Linked DNA regions of Homo sapiens: regions 2 and 3 are each linked to region 1. The links come from fine-mapping of genetic effects on gene expression. A gene starts in region 1. Each other region holds a variant in brackets. All regions are shown on one strand. Distances are from middle to middle.

Region 1 (4,239 bases):
TGTCCACCAAGGTATTGTGTTCGGTCCCTATTTCACTCAGAAATATATTGTACATTTTCCCTCCATAATTCCATCCACCTGTCTGAACAAGTGAAAAAAAAATTGTGCCACAATTTCTACTGTCTTGACAAAGATTACTTCTGATTTGCTTCCCCACCCCAGATAAGCTAAAGAGAGCTAAAGGGAGTGGAAGGATTAGAAGAGGAAAGAAACTTCAATACGGTACTCAAAGTCATAGATTTTGCCTAAACTGGTGTGTGCAAATATTTTAAACTATTTTATTTTCAAAATGGATACTTGTAAACATCAGCGGAAATTTTGTCATGAATCCCTTTTAGGCAGAAGATGTTTATAAAATGAATTATCTTAATTTAAGGGAGCTATTGCCCTCAGGATTTTGGTAATAACAACCGTAGCTGCTTCTGTACCTAACAAATGGTTATGTAAAAACAATTAAAGCAAAAGAAAACAAAACAAAAAACAAGGGAGGATGTGCTCTGTTTCTGTAATTGCTCTAACCTTGTTTTATTTTGATATGAGATTTCTTGGCCTCATCTCAGATAGCAACACCACCCTACACTTTCTCCTCCACACCCTTTGCAAATAGAATTCCAAAAGGTAGTTCAGGCACTTTAGAGTTCATCCTGGGAAATGGCTCATCTTGAGGGCATTTCAGTGCAGTAACTGAGATTTCGTCTGCTCCTTCCCGGGCCGCCGCACTGCCCATCCCCTGCCCAGTGATTTCCCCAGGAATCCGGGGACGGCAGGAAAAGAGCTCCATCCACAGCCAGCCCCTCGCCTTTCCGGGGACGGCCCTCAGCCCTGAGGGCTGCCCGTTTACCGTGCGCATCCCCCGGCCAAGCATCCCCGCAAGGCGCCCCTCACCGCCAACTTTCCCCACTGGAAACTATTCTCCGAGCAACCGTTAAAGATCATTGACCCCGCGAACGCCTCTTCCTGAGGTAGATCACGTAAGATCTCTCCCTAACTCCCACTTTCCCCTCCAGACCAGACGTCGCAGTGCCCACATCCCACTCAGGATTGAGCTACCCCGAAAGAACAAGTGCGCCCGGAGCCGCCACGGGCCAGAAGTCCTCGCCTCCAGAGCGAAGACCGCACTCTCGCCCCAGCACCCCAAAACCCGACCCCCGGCGCTCGCCCCGGCCGCCCCGCTCCCGGGGAAGTGCCCGATCCGCCAGCGCCTCCGCGGAGCCAGGACAGAACTCGCGGCCGGGGCGCCCCGAGACCCAACGCAGCGCCGCGCAGCCGGGGCCTCCACGCCCCCACGCCCGGTCCCGGCCCTCCCCGGGCATCCGCGGCTCGCCCCGGGGGATTAGGGCTCGGCCCGACACACACGGCCCGCTCCGGGGCGCCGGGGACAGGGAGGCCCGCCCGCGCCGTTCCTCAGGCCGCCGGGGACCCGCACCAACTCCCCTCGCCTCCGAAGGACAAGCCGGCCCGCACCTCCTGCTCGGGCCAAGGCGGACGAGGGGCATTGGAACCCCGCCTCCTCCCCAGGCCGCGAGGACCCCGACCAGCGCGCCCTCGCCTCCGCCCAGCAGCGCGGCCCGCGCCCCCTCCCCAGGCCGCGGGGAAACGCAGCGCGCGCCCCGCATCTGCCCGCGGGCCCAGCCCCTCACTCACCCAGAGCTCGGTGCCCCAGCTCATGGTGCAGGGGACGCGAAGGGGCGCTCCGCGCGGCGGGCGCGGCTCTCTGGTCCCCCTCCCCGGCGATCCCTTTGCCCCCCGAGATCCCCGCGACGGCGGAAAGCCCGGAGTCCGCGCGGCCTCCTCCGGCTCGCAGCTCCTCGCCCGGGGTCTCCTCGGCGGCTCCTCCTCCCCGCCGCTCCACAGCAAAATGGCCCGAGGAAGCAGCAGCCGCGGCCGCCGCAGCGCCCGCCCGCCCTACACCCGGAGAGCGGGGGAGGGGCGGGAGGGGAGGGGCGGGGCCGGTCTGACAGCTCGCGCACGCGCGCCCGCCCCACCCCGGCCCGGCCCCCTCCCCCGGGCTCCCCCGGCCGGGTCCGCGTCGCCCTGGGGTCCGGAAGGACGCGGAGGGAGGTGTGAGGGACGGCGGGACCCGGATCCCTAGGACTCCCCCTGCCAATCTGGTAATGACTTCTTAGTGACCACTGTCTGCTCGCAGTACTAGCGCTTGCCTTGGAACGCGGCAGGCCCTGGGATCACCGATGCTCCGCCGCGGTCTGAGATCGCTCCCCTGCGCGTATCGCCGCTCTGGATTTAAGGACAATACTTTCCCCTGGCAGCCATGCGCGCCGAGCAGAGTCAGCCCGGGAGGCTCTTTTCCCACCGCCCGAGGGAAGCCCGAGAGTCCCGCAGGCTGGCGCGGTGGGAGTGGGGCGGTGGTAACTGCGCGCTGTGCGAATAGAGACGTCGAGGCAAGCGCGACGGCCTCGAGTGGCTAGGGAAAGAATCCAGGGGCGTGCACCCAGTGATTTCCAATCTCTGAAACCAGTGATTTCCAACTTGTTCAGCCAAGAAACTCTCAGGCGTGAAATCACGTTACCGCCTAGTGGGTAAAAGCAAAGGCGTGGGGTACACAGATAACTTGTTTGGTTCAAATCCAGCCTCCCGCACGTGCTGGCCGGGCGGAGGCGGACAATTGCTCCACCTCTGGAAGCGCAGAGCGCAGTCCACCAAATGGAGGCAAATAACGTGTCCATCTCACTGCCCGGCGGTGAGGATCAGGGGTGGGCCAAGGCCGAAGGTTGGTAAACCCAGCGCTCATTTTATCAGCAGACGGACTCCCTCTCTATATATCCAAAGGTCTGCACAAATGTTCCTGACAAGCTATGGAAAATGTTTGGAATTCCAACTCCTGAATCACTAGCCCTTTCCCCACAGCTTATCTTTCTCCCTCGGTTAATGCTACTACTGGATCCTTTTCTGAGAAACCGTGCGACTCCCAACATGGGCCCCCAGTTAAAAAATATTTTACGATGATGCATTTCTCCAATCCCACCCCACCATTTTCAACCTGCTTATCATTCTCCTCCATTAAAAGGTGGAGCTAACCCGGGTCTGGTGGCTCACGCCTGTAATCCCAGCACATCAGGAGGCCCAGGTGGGAGGATGGCTGGAGGCCAGGAATTTGAGACCAGCCTGGGCAACATCGCAAGACCCTGTCTCTACAAAAAGAAAAAAAAAAAAGTTAGCTGGGCATGGTGGCATGCACCTGTGGTCCCAGCTACTTGGGAGACTGAGACAGGAGGATCGCTTGAGCCTAGAAGGTTGAAGTTGCAGTGAGCCATGATGGTGCCATTGCCCTCCAGCTTGAGCAACAGAGCAAGACCCTGTCTCAAAAATATTAACAATAATGAATTAAAGCCGGGCATGGTGGCTCACGCCTGTAATCCCAACACTTTGGGAGGCAGAAGTGAGTGGATCATCTGAGGTCAGGAGTTTGAGAGCAGCCTGGCCAACATGGAGAAACCCCGTCTCTACTAAAAACACAAAAGTTAGCTGGGCGTGGTGACAGGGCGCCTGTAATCCCAGCTACTCAGGAGGCTGAGGCAAGAGAATCGCTTGAACCCGGGAGGCAGAAGTTGGAGTGAGCCAAGATTGTGCCACTGCACTCCAGCCTGGGTGACAGAGCGAGACTGTCTCAAAAAATAAAATAAAATGAATAATAATAATAAATTAAGAGGTGGAGCTACTAAACAAAAAACAAAACAAAAAAAAACCTCTTGCAGATAAACCTCCAACTCTACTTCCTTTGTTGGGCAGTTACAATAAATTTAAGTTGTCAAAACTGTTTTGGTCTGCCTTTTTTCAGTTACAACCCTCCCTTCCTGCCCACCCCCATTCTTGTGTCTGTATAAATATTTTGCTCTCAGTTACCAGGTCTGAATTCTCTTTCCTCCAGAGACTGCTAGATATATAACAATGAGAACGGCCAGCTACCTATCTCCTAAGGCAGATTAATAGCCAGAGTGAGTTGGAGGGGGAAATTCAAACAATGCTGCACAGTTTAGTCTGCTAAAATTTGGAAACGGTACATGCAATGCAGGTTTATCTAACAAGACATTGCCTCAGTAATCACCTTCCTGCCAGGGCTTGACTTTTTAGTCAAATACAATGATCTAATCTTGACCAAGTTATTGGAGACTTCTCAAAAACAGTGACCACTTGTGAAAATACTCTAATCAAGAAGTAAAACAACCTGCTGCTTTAAAGAGGAGAAAGAGGAAGAGGAAGGGACAGCAGAAGAAAAAAAGA
Region 2 (4,239 bases), 140 kb before region 1:
ATATATATATATATTTTGTTAATTATTTTTGAGATAGGGTCTTACTCTGTCGCCTAGGCTGGAATGCAGTGGTATGATCTTGGCTCACTGCACCCTCTGCCTCCCGGGTTCAAGCGACTCTCCTGCCTCAGCCTCCTGAGTAGCTGGGACTACAGGCGCCCCATCATGCCCAGCTAATTTTTGTATTTTTAGTAGAGACAGGGTTTTGCCATGTTGGCCAAGCTGGTCTTGAACTCCTGACCTCAGATGATCCACCCACCTCAGTCTCCAAAGTGCTGGGATTCCAGGCATGAGCCACCATGCCCAGCCGCTTCTATTTCCTTTGGGCTTAATTTGCTGTTCTTTTTCCGACTTCTTGAGATAGATCGTAAGTGAGGATCTAAGTGAGCTAAGGCTCAGTGATTTTTACCTCTGTTTTTAATATGCATTCAGAGCAATAAATCTCTCTATATGCGTGGCTTTAAGGACATCCCACAAACTATATATAGAATGTATGTTAAAGTTCAATTCTATTTCATATACTTTCTAATATCTACTATGATTTTTTGTTTAGTTTGTGGCTTATTTAGAGGCATATTTCTTTTTTTTTTTGTTTTTTTTTGAGACTGAGTTTTGCTCTTGTTGCCTAGGCTGGAATGTAATGGCGCGATCTCAGCTCACTGCAACCTCTGCCTCCTGGGTTCAAGCGACTCTCCTGCCTCATCCTCCCGAGTAGCTGGGATTACAGACATGCGCCACCACGCCTGGCTAATTTTGTATTTTTAGTAGAGATGGGGTTTCTTCATGTTGGTCAGGCTGGTGTTGAACTCCCGACCTCAGGTGATCTGCCTGCCTCAGCCTCCCAAAGTGCTGGGATTACAGGCATGAGCCACCGCGCCTGGCCAATTTCTTAATATTTGTTATTGGTATCCAGCTTAATTGCAGAATATAGATAATATAGCTTGAATGATACATTTCCTTTGATATTTATTGAGATTTGCTTTGTGAAACAAAGATATACTCAATTTTGAAAATGTTCTTATGTGGGCTTGAAAAGAGTGTTGATATGGTTTAGCTGTGCCCTGGCCCAAATCTCATCTTGAATTGTAGCTCCCATATCCCCATGTGTCATGGGAGGGACCCAGTGGGAAGTAATTGAATCATGGGGGCGGTTTTTCCCAGGCTGCTCTCGTAATAGTGAGTCTTATGAGCTCCAATGGTTTTATAAAGGGCAGTTCCCTTGCACAAGCTCTGCCGAATGCCACCATGTAAGACATGCCTTTGCTCCTCCTTTGCCTTCCGCCATGATTGTGAGGCCTCCCTATCCATGTGGAACTATGAGTCCATGAAACCTCTTTTTCTTTATAAATTACTCAGCCTCAAATATGTCTTTATTAGCAGCATGAGAATGGGCTAATACAGTGTGTGCCCTGCAGTTGTTAGATGTTTATGTATTAGGTCAATGTTACTAAATGTATAATTTAAGTCTTCTATACTAACTTTGAGCACTTTTTTTTTTTGAGACAGAGTCTCGCTCTGTTGCCAGGCTGGAGTGCAGCAGCACAGTCTTGGCTCACTGCAACCTCTGACTCCCTGGTTGAAGGGATTCTCCTGCCTCAGCCTCCCTAGTAGCTGGGATTACAGGCACACACCACCACTCCCAGCTAATTTTTGTATTTTTAGTAGAGATGGGGTTTCACCATGTTGGCCAGGATGGTCTCAATCTCCTGACCTCGTGATCCGCCCGCCTCCGCCTCCCAAAGTGCTGGGATTACAGGCGTGAGCCACTGCGCCTGGCCCAAGCACGTTTTTTTTTTTTCTTTCCTTTTATTCAGCCCA[A/G]AAGCCAGCCTTGTAACACCAGTTTCCTTTTGATTGGCCCTTGCATGGTATATCTTCTCTCCCATTTTTTTACTTCTACATTTCTAGAGCTTATAAGTTAGATGTGTCTTTTGTAGATAGCATACATTGCTTTGTGTATTGGGTTTTTAATTTTTTGGTCCATTCTGAGAATATCTTTTAATTGAAACACGTAGTTTGTTTACCTTTAACATATTGATTCATTTTATTTCGCAGACACTTATGTGCCAGGCACGGTTCCAAGCATGTTATGCACACTGACACATCAGCAGTAGTAACTGATAGAGCCAGATTTGACCCCAGGGTATCTGGAGTGCTTGGTATTTAACATCTATCATCCTACTTTGTGCTTTTTTCTTGGAGACGGGGTCTTGCTCTGTTGCCCAAGGTGGAATGCAGTGGTATACCTCTTGAGACAGATCCTTAGCTCTTGCTAGGAGTGAGGGTGTGTGTGTGTGTGTGTGTGTGTGTGTGTGTGTGTGTGTGTGTGTTATTTGACTGGCTTTTCCTACAGCTGTTTTAATGAATGCACCTTCCCCTCACAGAGGCCCTCCTCCTCTATGGCATCTCTGCTTTATGGCAAATGGGTTTTGATTTTTTTGTTTTGTTTTGAGACAGAGTCTCGCTCCATCACCCAGGCTGGAGTGCAGTGGCGCAATCTCGGCTCACTGCAAGCTCCGCCTCCCGGGTTCATGCCATTCTCCTGTCTCAGCCTCCCAAGTAGCTGGGACTATAGGCGCCCGCCACCATGCGAGCTAATTTTTTGTAATTTTAGTAGAGACAGGGTTTCACCGTGTTAGCCAGGATGGTCTCGATCTCCTGACCTTGTGATCTGCCCGCCTCGGCCTCCCAAAGTGCTGGGATTACAGGTGTGAGCCACTGTGCCCAGCTGGGTTTTGATTCTTAAGCAAACAGCTCACTGCAGCCTCCACCTCCCAGGCTAAAGCAATTCTCCCCACCTCAGCCTCCCAAGTAGCTGGGACTACAGGTGTGCCATCACACCCAGCTACTTTTGTTTATTTTTGTAGAGATGGGGTCTCACTATGTTGCCAAGGCTGGTCTCTCTCTCTTTTTTTTTTTTTTTTTGAGATAGGGTCTCACTCTGTTGCCCAGGCTGGAGTGCAGTGGCATGATCATAGCTCACTGCAGCCAGGACCTCCTGGGCTCAGGTGATCCTTCCACTTCAGCCTCCCAAATAGCTGGGACTACAGGTGCACACCATCATGCCTGGCTAGTTTTTTTCTTTTTTTTTTTTTTAGGGTTTTTGCTATGTTGCCTGGGCTGGTCTTGAACTCCCGGACTCAAGCGATCTTCCTGCCTCAGCCTCCCAAAGTGCTGGGATTACAGGTGTGAACCACCATGCCCAGCCTGAACTTGAATTTCTTTTCTTTTAATTTTTATTTTATTTTTAATTATTATTATTTTTTATTTTTTTGAGACAGAGGCTTGCTCTGTTGCCCAGGCTGGAGTGAAGTGGCATGATCTTGGCTCACTGCAACCTCTGCCTCCTGAGTTCAAGCAATTCTGCTGCCTCAGCCTCCTGAGTAACTGGGACTACAGACGTGTGCCACTGCACCTGGCTAGTTTTTATATTTTTAGTAGAGACGGGGTTTCACCATGTAGGCCAGGATGGTCTTGATCTCTTGACCTCAGGTGATCCACCCACCGCAGCCTCCCAAAGTGCTGGGATTACAGGTTGTGAGCCACTGCGCCTGGCCTTGAATTTCTTAATAAGTCATATTGATGCACTATACCTTTGATCCATCTCCTTCTGAATTTCTTTATTTAACTCATCGACTTTCTGCTGCAGCTTTTTCCTTCTTTGTTCAGGTGGGAGGTTGCTGAAATCCTCCGGTGTTGCACCCTGCAGACACAAATATAAATGAGAAACCAGAAAGCCCCAGGCTTTCCTTGAAAGAAGGCTGAAAGCAAAGCCTGCAGCCATGGGGGGTGCAGACATCTGCATGTGGCTTCATGAAATAGATTAAGCTCTTTCCCACTACACCCAGCCGAGATGCAAAAATCAATGCATGCAAACTGCATAAGTCCCATAAACCATTCCCAGTTCCATGGATGCTGGCCAGAATGCCCCAGAAAAAGCAGTGAGCAACGCTACAGTAAAGGAGAGTAAGAGATACTTCTGACTCTAGGGAGAATCCATGAAAAACACATTTTGAGACAGTCTTCTTCCTTTTCCTACCAAGTGTTACCATCAATGTCAGTGGCAACACTGAAGTGTTAATGAAATTTATGTTTCCTTAATACAAACCCCATCAACCACTGCACGCCTAGCTGCTGCCTTTTCCCTAGCGTGAGTATTCCTGCCAGTCTCTTCACACAGGCTGAGGCCAAAAGTCTCCACCCCTGTAAAGTGACAGATGGGACATCACATTCCTCAGAGAA
Region 3 (4,239 bases), 130 kb before region 1:
GCACTTTGGGAGGCTGAGGCAGGCAGATCAAAAGGTCAGGAGCTCGAAACCAGCCTGACCAACATAGAGAAACTCTGTCTCGACTAAAGACACAAAAAATTAGCCGAGTGTGGTAGCACCCGCCTGTAGTTCCAGCTACTTGAGAGGCTGAGGCAGGAGAATTGCTTGAACCTGGGAGGCGGAGGTTGTGGTGAGCCAAGATCACGCCATTACACTCCAGCCTGGGCGACGGGCGAGATTCTGTCTCAAAAAAAAAAAAAAAAACCCAAAAACAAACCAGTAAATATAAGTGTTTCCCTGAGTTCTGTGAGCTGCTCCTGCAAATTAATTGAACCCAAAGAGAGGGTCAGGGGAACCCCAACTTGAAGCTAGTCCATCAGAAGTCCTGGAAGCCTGGACTTGCGACTGGTGGGAAGGAGGGGGCAGTCCTTCAGGACTGAGCCCTCAACCCCCAGGATCAGCCACTATCTCCAGGTAGATAGCATCAGAATGGAATTGAATTAAAGGACACCCAGCTAGTGTCTGCTGCTTGATATATAGCGGAAGCCTCCACATATTTGGTCACAGAAATCTTCTCTGTTGATTGTCATAGTGGAACAGCAGAGGAAAAACGGTTTGAGTTTTATCAAATGAGCATGTTTTCCAGAACTGAGAATTTTTTAAAAGCTGGAATACAGCAAAACACAATGCTAAGATACACTGCTTCAGAAATCAGGAAATCTAGGCCAGGCGCGGTAGCTCATGCCTGTAATCTTGGCACTTTGGGAGGCCGAGGCGGGTGGATCACCTGAGGTCGGGAGTTTGAGACGAGCCTGACCAACATGGAAAAACCCCGTCTCTACTAAAAATACAAAATTAGCCAGGCGTGGTGGCGCCCGTCTGTAATCCCAGCTACTCAGGAGGCTGAGGCAGGAAAATCGCTTGAACCCGGGAGGTGGAGGTTGTGGTGAGCTGAGATTGCGCTACTGCGCACTCCAGCCTGGACAACATGAGTAAAACTCCATCTCAAAAAAAAAAAAAAAAAAAGTCACAAAATCTGGCAAGTGGTCAACATTCACCTCGTTAATATGTGCTGAGCCTTGCTATGTGCTGTGAGTCCAACAGAACTTTCTACAGTGATGGCAATGTTCTATGGCCGCTCTTTCCAACACAGAAGCCATGTGTGGCTGTGAAGCATTTGAAATGTGGCTGGTGAAATTGTGGAACTGAATTTTTAAAAATTTATTTAATTTTAATTAATTAAAACTCAACAGCGGTTGGGCGTGGTGGCTCACACCTGTAATCCCAGCACTTTGGGAGGCCGAGGTGAGCGGATCACCTGAGGTCAGTTCAAGACCAGCCTGGCCAACATGGTGAAACCCTGTCTCTACAAAAATTAGCTAGGCATGATGGCAGTTGCCTGTAATCCCAGCTACTCGGGAGGCTGAATCAGGAGAAACGCTTCAACCCGGGAGGCGGAGGATGCAGTGAGCCAGGATCATGCCACTGCACTCCATCCTCAGTGACAGAGCGAGACTCCATCTCAAAACAAAAACAAAAACAAAAAACTCAATAGCTACATATGGTAGTGGCTACCACACTGGACAACAGCTTTAGCCTCTGTGCAGGTGTATAAACAGGTGCAAAGAAATCTATCAGTAAAACACATTGTACTGATAACTTATAAATAGATAAGAAAACAACAAAGACAGGCCATAACAGGAGGAGTTGGTATGGGAAGAGAGGGTCATA[C/T]ACATGTACCTATGTTTTAAGTGGCTGGAGTTCTGTAAGAGAAGCTTGTTCTATGTACTAATAAAATCAAACCTGGCCGGGCCTGGTGGCTCACGCATGTAATCCCAGCACTGTGGGGGGCTGAGGTGGGCGGATCACCTGAGGTCAGGAGCTCGAGATTAGCCTGGCCAGCATGGTGAAACCCCGTCTCTACTAAAAATACAAAAATTAGCTGGGTGTGGTGGCGCGCCCCTATAATCCCAGCTACTCGAGAAGCTGAGGCATGAGAATCGCTTGAACCCAGGAGGTGGAGGTTGCAGTGAGCCGAGATCGCGCCACTGCACTCCAGCCTGGGGGACAGAGCGAGACTCTGTCTCCTAAAAGAAAAAAAAATCAAACCCTTGCTTGTTGACAGCTTCCCCCCACCCCAAAATAGCACAAGCTCCGTGTAATACTACTTTTTCAGATTTTGGGTTTTTTGTTTTGTTTTATAGTTTTTTTTTTTGAGACAGGGTTTCATTCTATCACCCAAGGCTGGAGCAGCCTCAACCTCCTGGGCTCAATCAATCCTTCTGCCTCAGCCTCCAGTATAGCTGGGACCACAGGCACAGACCACCATGCCTGGCTAATTTTTGTATTTGTTTGTAGAGTCAGGTTTCACCATGCTGCTCAGGCTGGTCTAGAACTCCTGGGCGCAAATGATCTGCCTGCCCCCACCTCCCAAAGTGCAGAGATTACAGGCGTGAGCCACCACACCTGGTCCCACATCTTTTTTCTTTTGTCTTTTTTTTTTTTTTCAGACATGGTCTCACTCTGTCACCCAAGCTGGAGTGCAGTGGCGCAATGATAGCTCACTGCAACCTTGAGCTCCTGGGCTCAGGCAATCTTCCTGCCTCAGCCTTCCAAAGCACTGGGATTCCAGGCACAAACCACCGTGCCCAGCCAGCGCTTCACTTCTTTGTTGCCTTCAAGGTAATGATATAAAGCAACAATTCAATACCAAGTTGGTAAAATAATTTGTATTTCAAACAGAAAGACTGCCTAAAAATATTACCTTTTGCTCCTAGCACCCAGACAAACAATGAATAAAGGGAAATAAGGAAACCCTGGCAGCTGAGAAGGCCTCCTAGTCAATAGATCCAGTTTCTCCCAAGTTCATACTGCAGATGAACTTGTAGTTCATTTAAGTATCTAGATCTCTTTCCTTCATGTAGAGACCTTAATCAAAGACTCTTCTCAGGATTTTATTTCACAGCCTAAGAAATGTTTATTTAATTTAATAAAATACTCTTTTTCTTTAAGGTTGGGTCCATTACCAAATACTAAGTCATGTTGAAAAAATTATGTATATACATACATATGTCTATATATATATATATATATATATATATATATATATATCTCACCATAAAATACTATCCTAGGTTATCAATAGTGTGCTTATAGTGCTGATCTTACTCCTAGTAGAACTGTCACAGTTGATCACTGTCCATTATTTTAGGATATTCTTAGCTGTGGAGTTTGAGAAGACTATGAAACTATTATACATATTTGAAGTATAGTTATAGGTTATGTTAGTTACTTTTAATAAATTTAATGATTAGTTTGACTGTTGACTAGGCATATACAATTAAGTAGAAACGACACAAAACACTGAGTGAATAATTCTAAAAAGGCTTAGGAGGCTCTTTTCACTGTCCATGAAATCATCTTGTGGCCTCTTGAATCAGCTATGCACAAGGCACCAACATATCTACGTCGCACCATAAAGATTCCACAGTCTTCCATTCCCACAGGTGGCCTCAAACCTGGGTAGCAGCTGCTGGCTGGGATCATTCCTGCACAGCTCCTCCAGGCTCCCAGATTTTTTCATCTACTTCTATGGTTCTCTAATAGCAACATTTTTCAACTATTAATTTACTTTTATTCAAAATGATCCAACAGACACCCCCCAAGATTTAATATTTACGTTCATATATATATATTTGGAGACAGAGTCTTGCTCTGTCACCCAGGCTGGAAGTCCAGTGGTATAATCTCGGCTCACTGCACCCTTCACCTCCCGGGTTCAAGCAGTTCTCTGCCTCAGCCTCCCAAGTAGCTGGGACTACAGGCGCACGCTGCCACGCCCGGCTAATTTTTTGGTTTTTTGTAGAGATGGGGTTTCACCGTGTTGCCCGGGTTGGTCTCGAACTCCTGAGCTCAGGCAATCCACCCACCTTGGCCTCCCAAAGTGCTAGGATTACAGGCGTGAGCCACTGCGCCCGGCCTTTACGTTAATATTTATATAGACACTTTAACATTTGTCCTCCTCTCAAGGCCCCAGGAATAACACCAAGTCGTGAGTTAAATGTTAATTTTCTTAGCAACTTGAAAAGATTAAGATCACCTCTATTAGATTCTGGACCTTTGTATCCAAGAAGTCTAATAAGGAAACACCAACAAAAGCACACGTAAGAGAAACACAAACCAAGTTAACTTTGAAGATACGTTGTGCATGGCATAGCATTCATAAAAGACACGCCAGAA

Alleles and levels. Alleles are on the strand shown, and positions count from the first base shown. SD is a standard deviation of normalised expression in the study named. Not every link is listed here.
In carriers of allele G in region 2, the expression in Th1 cells of the gene that starts at base 1,882 in region 1 tends to be lower than with A alone (large effect, 0.76 SD a copy in Schmiedel 2018).

What was found. PIP is the estimated chance that this variant, and not a neighbour inherited with it, causes the effect. A credible set is the group of variants that fine-mapping cannot tell apart.
Region 2: its variant is the best candidate, but not a certain one, in a credible set for the expression of FNBP1 in Th1 cells (Schmiedel 2018, PIP 0.87).
Region 3: its variant is the best candidate, but not a certain one, in a credible set for the expression of FNBP1 in whole blood (INTERVAL, PIP 0.68).

What each region holds. Positions count from the first base shown.
Region 1 is chr9:130,041,308-130,045,546 of GRCh38, forward strand. It overlaps FNBP1 (formin binding protein 1), which reads right to left and starts at 1,882. Exons shown (of 17, transcript NM_015033.3): 1 at 1,645-1,882. The coding sequence starts at 1,668. RefSeq lists silencers at 1,245-1,404, 1,585-2,144.
Region 2 is chr9:129,905,300-129,909,538 of GRCh38, forward strand. FNBP1 (formin binding protein 1) reads right to left here. Exons shown (of 17, transcript NM_015033.3): 12 at 3,591-3,700. Among named protein-coding and RNA genes, the nearest start is that of MIR6855, 38 kb to the left of the region's middle. The variant A/G (reference allele first, on the strand shown) is at 1,819.
Region 3 is chr9:129,911,684-129,915,922 of GRCh38, forward strand. All of the region lies in intron 11 of FNBP1 (formin binding protein 1), which reads right to left. Among named protein-coding and RNA genes, the nearest start is that of MIR6855, 44 kb to the left of the region's middle. The variant C/T (reference allele first, on the strand shown) is at 1,732.